2 linked regions of the Homo sapiens genome follow. The protein of the gene in region 2 interacts with the protein of the main gene of each other region in a pairwise test. Each region holds a gene or a part of one and is shown on either strand. Other genes may lie near its edges.

The links. Proteins that work in one complex are often made in the same cells at the same time.
Region 1: the proteins of EDC3 (region 2) and ANXA10 interact in binary tests that used the Homo sapiens proteins (3 or more experiments, as listed by UniProt).

Annotation. Positions count from the first base shown.
Region 1 is NC_000004.12:168,158,537-168,165,573, reverse strand, and holds part of ANXA10 (annexin A10), read right to left. Parts: intron 5,341-7,037; coding exon of another isoform or gene 5,281-5,340; intron 3,047-5,280; coding exon 2,933-3,046; intron 1,377-2,932; coding exon 1,286-1,376; intron 328-1,285; coding exon 248-327; intron 1-247.
Region 2 is NC_000015.10:74,651,023-74,658,059, forward strand, and holds part of EDC3 (enhancer of mRNA-decapping protein 3), read right to left. Parts: intron 5,047-7,037; coding exon 4,711-5,046; intron 1-4,710. UniProt on the Homo sapiens protein: Binds single-stranded RNA. Involved in the process of mRNA degradation and in the positive regulation of mRNA decapping. May play a role in spermiogenesis and oogenesis.

The DNA.
Region 1 (7,037 bases), on a different chromosome or scaffold from region 2:
ATCTCTTTAGAATAGATTTTTAATTTTTTGAAAATAGAGTTGAGGCATTATCCATATTTGTCTTTAACAACTTAAATTTCTAGTTGAGTATTTTGAACATGGCTTCAGTAAATGTTACTACACAGAATTTACTATTGAACTGTAATATACTGGAGTTTTCTGTTCTATTTTTTTTTTTTTTTTTGGCAATGACATATACTTATTTGCTTAGATAGTGCAAAGTAATGTAAATTTTGGAATGCCATACCTGGACCAAGTTCATGAGAGTATCTCTGAAGTGTCCTGAGGTCTCTGAATAAATGTCCTCTTGGAGGTTATTGCTGTATTCTGTATAAGAAAACATGTTAAAGGTATGATTTATTATAGAACTATGTATCAGTGTGTTTTGAGTAAGTTAATGTTATTTCCCAGTTGTGAGTACAAAGTCCAGGAAATGTAGTCCACCTGTTGACATTTCTTTGTCAATAAACCGTCTGCCAAAGAATTCTGTCACCTAATGGTAACATAAGCACAGGACTATTTTTTAAAAATCTTTAGTCCAAAATTGAAAAACAGGATTGAGAGTCATTTCACATTCTCTGATTCTCAAAATTCAGAATTATGCATTCTATTTCCACAGAATGCTGCCCAGCCCAATACTTTTTCTAAGTGCTTCATCTCATTTTAACATTTTAGTGAAAGTTCTGACTTCATTCCCTTCAGAAAAGTCTTGTTTTTGTTTGAATGCAATAGAGATGACTGTCCGCAACATTTTCTTGACACACAATGTCATATACTACATAACGCAATAGAACTTAAGGCATTATACCTTTTTGAAAGTGAAAATAGTTACCCTTTCTACTTTTGAAATGTATAAAAATCTGATTTTGTAGTAGATTACGGGAATGTGAAATTTATGTAAAGCGAAGCAGATATATTTGTAGAATTCACTGAGCCATTATTGTACCTTATTTTTTCTATATGCTGGGTCTTTCCTGGGTAAGAGGTGAAATGCCCCCTGAATTAAAATGTGGGACACTTTCCTGTCTTAATGAAAACATTCACCTCATAGAGACTTGTAATTATTTTCCTGGAAAATTTGCTTAACTTGATTGTCTAGAGAATGGTTTCATTTTTAGTGCACTAATAATCGGTTTTACCTAATGAGTTAATTGGTCCTCAGTGAATCCTATGTTAAATGTAAGAATGTCTTAGATAATTCTTCAAAATACATAAACTGGAATATTTAATGTGTTATAAAGTTCTTATATGTGTAAAATATATTCACATATGTATATTTCCTTACGCAAGCAGTAGGCTTCTCGCATCTGGAAAATTTCTCCATTTGTTCTTGAAGCTAGTATTTCAATGAGGCAATTCTCATCAGTGCCTACTCCCTAGAGAAAGGAAAAAAGAGATAAATGTAAGGATATTTTTATTGGAAGTAATAGTGTACCTTTTGTACAAGAAAGGGATACAGCATTTCCAGTGTTTTGAGAGGTGGCAGGGAAAGGAAGTGGTTTAGGATGAAGGCAGGCACAATCTTAGTTTCAGCTTTGCCATTTACTACCTATTTGACCCTGAAGAATTAATATTATCTGAAGGAAACTGTTTCTTCATTTAGAATAAAACAGTATGAGCATTTCTAAACAATGTGGAGAAAGACATGTTCAAGCAATGCTCATGGCATTGAGCATTTCCATTTGCTGTTGGAATGATATTTGATATTCCATTTGCTGCTGGAATATTAATTCTTTAGCAAGCTGACATTAGAATACAGGTTTTCTAATTTGCCGAGAATATTTTAGGGACCTGTGCCTGCCTCTCTAGATGTGGAATTTTGTACAATTTGCATAAATATTTGGATGGATGCTTTCTGTGGTCTCTTGCAGACACATGGATATATTGGTCTGTGAAAGAGATCTTAAAGACAATACACCTTTTTTAGGAAAGCCTCAGAAATCCTTAGCATTCTATGAATTATTGATAAAACACACTTGTTTAATCAAAACAGCAACATATAAACATATAACTTTATTTTTTAAATAATTTTTAGACATAATTTTGCAAGAGGTAGGAATTGACATGTAACATGTGTTAAAAGCGATTAGTTAAAATTCATATAATTTTTGTACAATGCCTATTTGGATCAGTAAATGTGATGGCCAAAATCCATGTCCTTTAATTTTTTTCCTGTTGCCTCTTTTCTGTCACACATTGTTCACAGATTGTGGTAATCTGGTCATTGGCAAGCATCGTACTGGAATGATTTCAACAGTTCTGCAGGTGTTTAATATCTGCATTTGGAAAGAAGTAAAGCCAAGGCCCTCTTTGTTCCCTGTACCTAGCCAACAAAATCTGTAACAAATCCACAGTCAACTTATTTCATGGAAATGACTTTCCTGTAAGAAACACTGATTCTAATTCTTCCAAATTAAGATTTTTATACATTTGAGCAAAAAAAAAAATGTTTCTGTAAAGAATGAACTTCAGGTCATAAAAAGAAAATATAAAGACATCATCTATATATTGTCCCTGATTCAATATCTTCTTTTGACTTAATCAAATTTTTACAAATAATGTAACAAGATTCACATCATTTTTAATACATTATCCTCAATATAGGAATACATGCTCAGGGACAAATCTGAATAGCCCTGGAGGCTTGTTCACTTTTCCTTGTTGTAGGTCAGCACTGGGGCTGGCTCAGTAAGTTTGTGACTTTGTACAACAAAAGAACAGGCTGATCCCAGCCACTCAGCCCAGGAGGCTCCACCTTCCTAACAAGGCCACTGCCCTTGACCACAACATTTCCATTGTTACATCATTGTTTAGATATTCCCTCCCCTCTCCTTGATCATATAAGTATGTAGGAGCATCACAGGGCAGTTTCCCCTCTACTGAAATACTGGCCTGTACTTGTTACAGGCATATTTTTGGATCAGATCACTACCTTCATGGCATGCCAGAGCTCATGAGCATCATACAGTGGTGGTGGGTACATGAGGCCAGCCATCACATCTTTGAAGTGATCCGAAAGCTGCTCCCTCATATCCCCAATCAGGTCCTGTGGAGGAAAAAGTACATATATTTATTATATGTTACCAAATTTGCAAGAGAAATGAGATAATTGCAGAAAGTCTTTTAATATTTTCTTTTCCATGTCATTTAATAATAACAGCATAACAAGTCTGATTCACATGTATATGTATGCATTACATGAGATGATGAACTTGAAAATTGTTGATTTGATCTCACCCCTGCATGACATAGCATATGCACATTGTAGACATTTGAACATAGAATGATTTTCTTTTTCTGACCCTAAACTCCAACTCCTCTTTTGATCTCATTATGAAAATATGTAAAAGTTAAACTTAAAAACATTTAATTGGGGGTCTTTAGTTTTCTTGTGGAATTACTGAAACATTACTCCTTAAAGAAAATATGCACTTTATTTTATTTTATCATTGCAACAGTCTCTTTTAGCAGAAGTCCCTGGTTATACTATTGCCAAACAGCTTATGTAAATTAATTAAGTAGTCTTAGAACTTTCTTCAAATAACAAGCAATATTATTTTAAATATTGAAAGTCAAACACTTAAAGAGAAATACATGCATACTAAATGTGCTATGAAAACAGACATAAAAATATTTTGCATTTTATTTTACAAATGTAAAGTGGAATTAAAAATATATATATGCTCTTCCTATACAACAACAAACAGGCAAGCCAAGAGCCAAATCATGAATGACTTCCAATTCACAATTGCTACAAAAGGAATAAAATACCTAGGGATACAGCTAACAAGGGAATTGAAGGACCTCTTCAAGGAGAGCTACAAACCACTGCTCAAAGAAATCAGAGATGACACAAACACATGGAAGAACATTCCATGTTCATGGATAGGAAGAATCAATATCATGAAAATGGCCATATTGTTCAAAGTAATTTATAGATTCAATGCTATCCCCATTAAACTCCCATTAATGTTCTTCACAGAATTAGAAAAAAAACTATTTTAAAATTCATATGGAACCAAAAAAAGAGCCTGAATAGCCAAGTCAATCCTAAGCAAAAAGAACAAAGCTGGACGCATCACACTACCCAACTGCAAACTATAATACAAGGCTACAGTAATCAAAACAGCATGGTACTGGTACAAGAACAGACACACAGACCAATGGAACAGAATAGAAAACTCAGAAATAAGACCACATAGCTACAACCATCTGATCTTTGACAAACCTGACAAAAATAAGCAATGGGGAAAAGATTCTCTATTTAATAAATGGTGCTGGGAGAAGTGTCTAGTTATATGCAGAAAACTGAAACTGTATACCTTCCTTATGCCATATACAAAAATTAACTCAAGATGAATTAAAGACTTAAATGTAAAACCCAAAACTATAAAAAACCTAGAAGAAAATCTAGGCAATACCATTGAGGACATAGGCACAGGCAAATATTTCATGATGAAAACTCCAAAAGCAACTGCAACAAAAGCAAAAATTGACAAATGGAATCTAATTAAACTAAAGAGCCTCTGCACAGCAAAAGAAACTATCATCAGAGTGAACAGACAGCCTATAGAATGGGAGAAAGTTTTTGCAATCTATCCATGGGACAAAGGTCTAATAACCAGAGTGAGTCTAAGAAGAACTTAAGCAAATTTACAGGAAACAAACAACCCCATTAAAAAGTGGGAAAAATATGAACAGACACTTCTCAAAAGAAGACAGACGTGCAGCCAACAAACACATGGAAAGAAGCTTAACATCACTGATTATTAGAGAAATACAAATCAAAACCACAGTGAGATATTGTTTCACCCCAGTCAGAAGGGTGATTACTAAAAAGTCAAGAAACCACAGATGTTGGTGAGGTTGTGGACAAAAAGGAACATTTTTACACTCTGGGAGTGTAAATCAGTTCAACCGTTGTGGAAGACAGTGTGGTGATTCCTCAAAGACCTAGAGGCAGAAATACTATTTGACCCAGCAATCTCATTACTGGCTATATGCCCAAAGGAATAAAAACCATTATATTAATATTATAAAGATACATGCATGTGTATGTTCATCGCAGCACTATTCACAATAGCAAAGATACATAATCAGCCTAAATGCCCAATGATAGACTGGATAAAGAAAATGTGGTACATATATGCCATGGAATACTATGCAGCTATTAAAAAGGGATGAGATTATGTCCTTTTCAGGGACATGGATAGTTGGAAGCCATTATCCTCTGCAAAGTAACACAAGAACAGAAAATCAAACACTGTATGTTTCACTTACAAGTAGGAGCTGAATGATGAGAACACATGGACACATGGAGGAGAACAACACACACTGGGCCTGTTGGGGGCGGGGGCAAGCAGGGAGGGAGAACATCAGGAAGAATAGCTAATGGATAATGGGCTTAATATCTAGGTTATAGGTTGATAGGTGCAACAAACCACCATGGCACATGTTTACCTGTGAAATAAACCTGCATATTCTGCACACGTATCCCTGAACTTAAAATAACATTTGAGGGAAAAAATATATATATACTCAATTTATTTTCTGTAGGGTTACCAAGAAATCTGAACGGTGTTTAAAATGGTCTCTCACTAAACTGTGTAAAGCATATTCAGTTTTACTTAAAAACATGCAATACTTTGGTTCTGAGGTGGTTCAATACTGGAATTCAAGTAAAAGATTCCACATTGAAATAACTACAAAATAGTCCTAATTTTCATTTTATTATTTGGCATAATCCAACACCACCTTTCATACACTGTGGATTTTCTTTTTTAGTAGATAAAAGCATTATAACAAGAGAGAAAATACAAAATACCAATATTGGAAGTGTAAGAGTTATGTGTATGTATACTGTAGACACTAAGGGGTAAAAAGAGACTATTATAAACAAATTTCTGCCACTATATTTTAAAATTTAGTTGAAATGGACAAATTCCATGACAAATACAAATTACCAAAATAGGCTCAAGCATAAATAGAAAATTTAGATTTCCCAATGTTAATTAAAGAAATTGAATTTGTAGTTAATGCTCCCGCCTATCTCTAGACCCAGGTGGAATCACTAATGTAATCTATCAAGCCCTTATGGAAGGGGTAAAGTAAATCCTATACAAAATATTGAAGAAATTAGTGGATGATAGAAGATTTCTCAATTTACCTTATCTGGCCAGTATTGCTGTAATACAAAAATTAAAATAAAAACTTCATAAGAAAATTGCACACTGATATCCCTTATAAACCTAGACACAAACATGTGTATTCAAATATTTATAAAGCACATCTAGTAACACAGAAAAAGAATGACACCTAACGAGCAAGTAGGGTTTATCCCAGGAATGCAAGGTTGGTTTGCATTTGAAAATTAATCAATGTAAATTTCCATTTTAGCAGTATAAGGAGGAAAGCTATATGATGATATCAATAGAAGTAGCGTGTTAGTCCACTTTGTGTTGCCATAAAGAAAAACCTGTGGCTGGGTAATTTACAAAGAGGTTTAATTGTCTCATGGTTCTGCAAGCTGTACAAGAAGCATGGCACCAGTATCTGCTTCTCATGAGGCTTCAAGAAGCTTACAATCATGGCAGAAGGCAAAGGGGGAGCAAGAGCTGGAGGGAGGAGCTGCCAGGCTCTTTAAGGGGAACATATTACTCATGGAAAGAGCTCTTCATGAGGAATCCGCTCCCACGACCCAAACACCTATCTTCAGGCCCACCTCCAGCACTGGAGATCACATTTCAACATGACATTTGGAGAGGACACATATCTAAACCAACTAATGTAGCAAAAGCATTTGAGAATATTTAGCACATAATCATAATAAAAAAATTCTTAGCAAAGAAAGAAGGAATCTTTCTCAAACTGATAGAGGGCATTTACAAAATTTCTACAGGGAAGAGGATACCAGTGAAAAACTAAATGCTTATCCTCTAAGATTGAGAACAAGGCAAGGATGTCTGCTCTTACTGATATATTCTATTTCAATTTGTACTAGAGCTATATACTTAAAAAGAAAAGCCAAAACTAAATCT
Region 2 (7,037 bases):
AAAATTAAAAAAAGAATCTTATGAGTGTTGAATAAAGATTCTTCTCTGAAGCCTTACCACTTTACTAAGCAGTATTCTTTGGGGAGTTCTCACCACTGAACACAGAGTGCTCACACACATCTAGTGTTTTATATTTAAACTTAACACATGCACGTAGAATCAGTCTTCAAAGAATTTCAAATTACAAGTCTGGATCCAGAAAGACCCTGGCCAATCCAGAGTGTGATCACTGGACACCATTATTTAGCAGGGCAGGCCCAAGCTAGAGAAATGTCTGATGATCCGTGACTGCGGGAGACAGAAGCCCTGCCAAAGAACCTGAAAGGAATTTCCAGAGAGAAAAAATTGGGGTTAAACAAAGAGCTAAATTTAGTTGCTTCCTGAATGTGTTTTCCCAATCAATAGACCTAAAACAACACTGTTCCCCATCACAACACACACAGCTGGCAAAGAGTACTGCCAAGAGGAGTATGAGCAATTAGTGAATAATAGCTTATGTACTGTTGGTTGACACCACTTAGCATGAAGTCAATATATAGGGCACCAGCAGCAAGCTGTCAGAATCCTAAATCCCAAGCCATCACCAAATGGGTAATAAATATGTTGTTCTTTTGCTACCATGGGGATTAGTACAAAAGTACTTGGTATTCTAGGACATGAATGCCACAAGGCCAGACTGCGGGAGCTCTCCAAGTTACTTCTGTAAACTGCTGGTCCATTCCTGAGAGACTGCAGTACTAAAGAAAAGACTACAGAGATGTCCCTCAACTTACAATGAGTGTTATCCCAATAAACCCATCATAAATTGAAAATATCTAAGTTGAAAATGCATTTAATACACCTAACCTACCAAACAAACATCATAGTTCAGCCTAGCCTACCTTAAACCTGCTCAGAACACTTACACTAGCCTACAGTTGGGCAAAATCATCTGGCAAAACAGTACACTGTAGAATACTGGTTGTTTACTCTCATGACTGCACGGCTGACTGCTTTGACTCCTGCTGCTGCCCAGCATTAGAGAATATCATACCTGCATATCGCTAGCTCAGGAAAAGATCTAAATTAATAATTTCAACTACAGTTTCTACTGACTATTGCTTTCACATCATCCTAGAATCAAAAAATGATAAGTCTAACCATTGTAAGTTGGAGGATCATCTGTAGTCTATTTGCCATTAAACTGCCCTTCTCTTCTTATATTTTTCCTTTTTTTTTTTTTTGAGACAGAGTCTCGCTCTGTCACCCAGGCTGGAGTGCAGTGCTGCGATCTCCGCTCACTGCAAGCTCCGCCTCCCAGGTTCACGCCATTCTCCCGCCTCAGCCTCCCAAGTAGCTGGGACTACAGGCGCCCACCACCATGCCCGGCTCATTTTTTTGTATTTTTAGTAGAGACGGGGTTTCACCGTGTTAGCCAGGATGGTCTCCATCTCCTGACCTCGTGATCCACACGCCTCAGCCCCCCAAAGTGCTGGGATTACAGGCATGAGCCACTGCGCCTGGCCTTTTCCTCATTTTTATTCACATTTAGAAGAGAAAAGGAGATGTGATGGGTAAGGTTTTTGTGTTTTTTTTTTGAGACAGGGTCTGACTCTGTCACCCAGGCTGGAGTACAGTGGCATGACTTTGGCTCATTGCAGCCGCAACCTCATGGGCTCAGACGCTCCTACTTCAGCCTCCTGAGTAGCTGGGACTACAGGCACATGCCACCGTGCCCAGCTAATGTTTTCTATTGTTTGTAGAGACAGGGTCTCACTTTGTTGCCCAGGCTGGTCTTGAACTCCTGAGTTCAAGCAATCCTCCCACCTTGGCCTCCCGAAGTGCTGGGATTACAGGCATGAGTCACTGCACCTGGCCAATGGAAAACCCTTTACCAGCTGGGCGTGGTGGCTGACGCCTGTAATCCCAGCACTTTGGGAGGCCAAGGCAGGCAGATCACTTGAGGCCAGGAGTTTGAGACCAGCCTGGCCAACACGGTGAAACCTCGTCTCTACTAAACATACAAAAATTAGCCAGGCATGGTGGCAGGTGCCTGTAATCCCAGCTACTCAGGAGGCTGAGGCAGGAGAATCGCTTGAACCTGGGAGGTAGAGGTTGCGGTGCGCTGAGAGCTGAGATCACGCCACTGCACTGCAGCCTGGATGACAAAACAAGACTCTGTCTCCAAAAAAAAAAAAAAAACCTTTACCTCTCTGGGCCTCATGTCCTCATCTGTAAAATGAAAAAATCATACTAGGTGATCAACTAACCTAACACTAACATTTTATGCTTTTAGACTGTTTCCCTATATATTCTAGTTTGCCTTTTTTGATCCAAACATTTGGATAGCAGATCCAATGGAGAAAGTGTCCCCAGCTCTGCACTGACTGCCCCTCAGTGAAAACCTGCTTGAGGATTGTGCCTTGGAACTCGAACACAGAGAAAACCCCCCTGTAGAAGAAGTTGCTCAGTAAGATAACTGCCTGCTTGCTCTATTTCCAGCACAGACGCTGCTTGGCAAAAGGGCTTCCTTTCCACTCCTTGTCACTGTTAAGAACAAAGAGAAAAACCAGATGGCATGAAGCTGCTGGGCTTCTTTCCCCCTCATTGTCATGAACCAGTGGAGTGCAACTGGTCACTACATACCACAAGACGCCACACCCAAGTTTCTGGCTAAGGACCAGCACATGTGGTTTGTGGTATGTTTATTGATAGGAAAATAATTTTATATGACAGAACTTTTCACTTCAGTCATTAAAAACAAAAGAAGTGTGAAGATCAAGTTGGGGAGCCAGAGTGTGTAGCAGAAAAAAATTTCTACCTCTGCTTTTGTCCATGTTAGTAAATATTTTCTCATGCTCTGTTAGTTCTGAGAATTCTCCCTGATTCTCACTGTTATTCTCACTCTTAGCCACTTGACTCCAGGGCAGATCATAATCTTCCCAAGTTAAAAAAATCCTGCAGTGTAGGGCTGGGCGCGGTGGCTCACACCTGTAATCCCAGCGCTTTGGGAGGCCAAAGCAGGTGGATCACGAGGTCAGGAGTTCAAGACCAGCCTGGCCAACATAGTGAAACCCCATCTCTACTAAAAATACAAAAAAATTAGCCAGGCATGGTGGTGTGTACCTGTAGTCCCAGCTACTCAGGAGGCTGAGGCAGGAGAATCGCTTGAACCCAGGAGGTGGAGGTTGGCAGTGAGCAGAGATTGCGCCATTGCACTCCAGCTTGGGCAACAGAGTGAGACTTCGTCTCAAAAAAAAAAAAAAAAAATCCTGCAGTGTAAATAGTTCCAGGGAAATCACACGCTGCATAAACCAACAGCCTCAGCAGCAGCACTTGGACTACAGATATAGAGAGCTAGCAGCAGGAGCAGCTTCTTTTACAAAGAGGGCAGTAAAAAAGGAAGCAGTCAGAGGTAGATAGTTGGCTGATCTGGAGGAGTACCAGACTTAACAGATGATAACTGCCTTTGAAAGGCTTAAAACCTAGCAATTTAAATTAAACCCGATTCTGAGCTAGGCTGTTTGCCTTTACACAGGTGTTAAAAATCGAAGGACTTCGGCAAGTTACAGTGTCACTGTCACTGCCACTTAAGGAAACCACCTTAATAAACAGGCATGCCTACCAGAATCTGCCAGCAAAAGACTGACACAGTTCAGCAGCTTGTTTTTTTTTTAGCAGTCTTTCTTAGCCTGACAGTTGGCCTATTTTTTTTTTTCACATGGAAAGCACATGCAAGCTACTATACTCAGCGAAACCAAATACAACAGAGTCCTACTATTATCTATAAAAAAAAAGCCATGTCTGGCTTTCCTCCAAATGCAATTAGCTGCGTCCACAGTTCTCCTTATAGCAGCTACCAGCATTCAAGATTTATATTCCTTATATTCCAAACTTCAAACCAAAATAAAAATATTATACTCAATTCCTTCTCTACTTACTAAAATGATTATGACTTCCCCTTTAGCTCTTAGGATCATTCAATAACAATGGTTTTCAAACCATATTCCAAGAGGCCCAGTTAGTAATGTGGTTTGAGGGGAAGGGATGGGACACGGATGTGATGAATTACCTCTCTCACACTGCTTTAATCTGTTTTATATGCCATAGGTTTGAAGAAAAGGTTCTAATGCTAAAAAAAGAAACAATAATCACTGAGGTAATAGAACTAGATTATCATCTACAATGACCTACATAAGGCACTACACTGTTACATGAAATTAGCCAACTTTCAATGTCCTGGGCTAACAGGAGATAAGAACAGCATAGTAAAGAAATGTAATTTATTAAAACTCTATTTTTAGCCAATGATTCCAATCATCCATCTTCAACTGTTTTTTTGCAACAACAAATAATTAGTAAAACAGAGTTGAAGTCTGGTGAAATGTATGGGCAGTAATAGAGAAGCCAAAGTGAAAATAGATCTGAATATTTGAATCTACATAGCAGGCCCTTTGCCTTTAGTTGTTACTCACAGCATACTAAATAAGTGGCAGGCCATATCCTACCAGATACAGGATATACACAGACATCTACAGAAATTACCCCTCCACCATGGCAGAATGCTGTTATTGGCTGCAATCCCCAAGAGACAATAATACCGGGCCAGCCACCAAGCCACTTAAATTAATTCCTAGTGTGAGATTCTGACTCAGAAGCCAGGTCTTTCTGTTTCAAGCATAATAGAAAGGCAACAGCAACCAGCAGGATGTGGGACCTGATGCAACTCACCCGTGCAGAACTCCTTGCTCACGTTGTGGGGCACTATGATCCGTCGATAGACAATGGGCTCGGACTCCAAGATGTTCTCATCATGGCGGTACCGAGTGGGCCTTTCATTTGGGATGCCCCGGGAACGGGTACCACTTCTCCTTTCATAGGTATCAATCTCCTCAAACACAGCTGCCTTGTCAAAAAGAGCCAGGTTCCCTTCAAAATCAAAATCTGTGTCTGGGATCTCCTCAATATCATCCCCGAAGCACTCGTCATCTTTATTCTTCATCTGGCCATTCTTTAAACCACTTTTCTTGGGAGTTGCCTGATTTGGGTGCCTGCTACTAGATGACCCTGGAGAAAAAATAGGGACTAAAGTCAGTGTATCCACAGAAAGCGCTCAGTGAACGTGGAAAATACATTAGTCTTTTGTGGAGAGTGTTACAGGAACCAATGTGAAAATGGTAAAGGTAACTATTGCAAACTCATATTAAGTAGCACAAACAACAAATCTCATGTGCAATAATAGGTTTCAAACATCACCCAATCTGGGCACAGTGGCTCACGCCTATAATCCCACATTGGGAGGCTGAGGCAGGAGGATCGCTTGTGCCTAGGAGTTCAAGGCTGCAGTGAGTGATGATCACGACACTGCACCCCAGCCTGGGCAAAGAGCAAGAATCTGTCTCAAAACACACACACACACACACACACACACACACACACAAACAACAACAAATATTACCCAAGTAACTTGTTAATGAATATGAAATAAGCAGTACTCCTGGAAATCTTAACCAGTTATCCCCTTCATAAGGAAACTGGTAATGACAAAAGTTTTTCTGACAACTTACTATTAGCAAACAAGAGGAAGAGTAAGAATATAGCATGGTGGTTTTGACATAATGACAGAGGCAGGAGGCAGAGAAATTCTAGAGGCGGGTCCCTGGCGAAGCCCCACCTTTGAAGCTGAAAAGGCTGAGACTGTGGCCCAAAGTGAGAACTTATATCCCTGTTTTCCCACTAGAATGTTGTCTTTTCTTAAACCACCCATGGCTCTGCCCCCACCCTATCCTGTGCCTATAAAGACCCCAGACTCAGTCAGCAGAGATGAGAAACAGCTGGATGTTGGAGACTATGGCTGGATGTCAGAGAGAAGTGGCTTGACTTCAGAGGGATAGCTTGACTGTGTAACTATGGAGAAGAATTTGGCTGGAGACAGCCAGACTTAAGGGGAAAATTACCTACCCACCACTGACTGTCCCCTTTTCAGCTCCCCTTCCCACATAAATAAAAATAAAATCACCCACATTTACCATCCTTTAATTCATTCATGTGACCTCATTTTTCCTGGACACTGGACAAAAGCTCAGAAGCCATGAGTGCAGATACAAAAGACTGTCACACTGATCCTTTGCCCTCACTGGCAGAGGGCAGCTGCAGGCCCACTGAGCTGTTAACACTTAAGCCATCTGTGGATGGCAGAGCTAAAAGAGCACCATAACACATCCTCTGGGGCTTCAGGAGTTGTAGACACCCCACCTAGATGCTGCCATATGGCCTGCACAGAGTTCGCTCCTGCTGGTGCCCAGAAGCGCTCATTCTGGCTCCTGCACCGGCTCACATGTGCACTCCCTCCCACAATGGGTAGAACACAGTGGGTCTGAGTGAGTGGAGTTTGATCCCACTGGCACTGAAACAGACAGCCAGGTTCCAGTGCTTGTGCACTCCAGTTCCTGCCTTGTTCTCTCGCACACTCCCTTCTGCAAGGAGTTGAGAGCAGTGCGTGGAGTAAACGGGGCACCCCTGTCATGAGTCCTGTGAATAGGTCAGGGAAGGGAAATATCCTGCTTCAGTTTGAGTCTGAGTGTCTGGCAGTTGTTTAAGAGAGAAATACCCCCAGAGTAAAAGAAGGCCTGGTCTTATAGCCTGAAGCTTGTAGGAAAATACTATTCAGCTAGTCCTTAAATCTATGCTTACCCAGCAAGCAATCTTCTGATTTTTAATTTGGTCTTAGGCTAGATCCCAGCAGCAGGGAATCCCTGGTTTGCTCAAAAAATTCTACATTCTGAGCCAGGTATACACCTACCACTACAAATTGCTATTCTGACTTACAAACCTTTCTTTAGACCTTTCGGTTAACGTGATCTCTTTTCTCAGAATTTTATCTCTTGTGGGTAAGCAGTTTCTGAAACACCAAATAATGACAGGGTCCATACTGAACTGATCCTGTAGAGGCCACACTAATGCACATCCACAACAGAGTAGCCAGCCACACCCTGTCTCTGACACCTTATTTGGCTACTACACATCAGTCAACAACTACTCTAGCAGCCAAGGCAGAA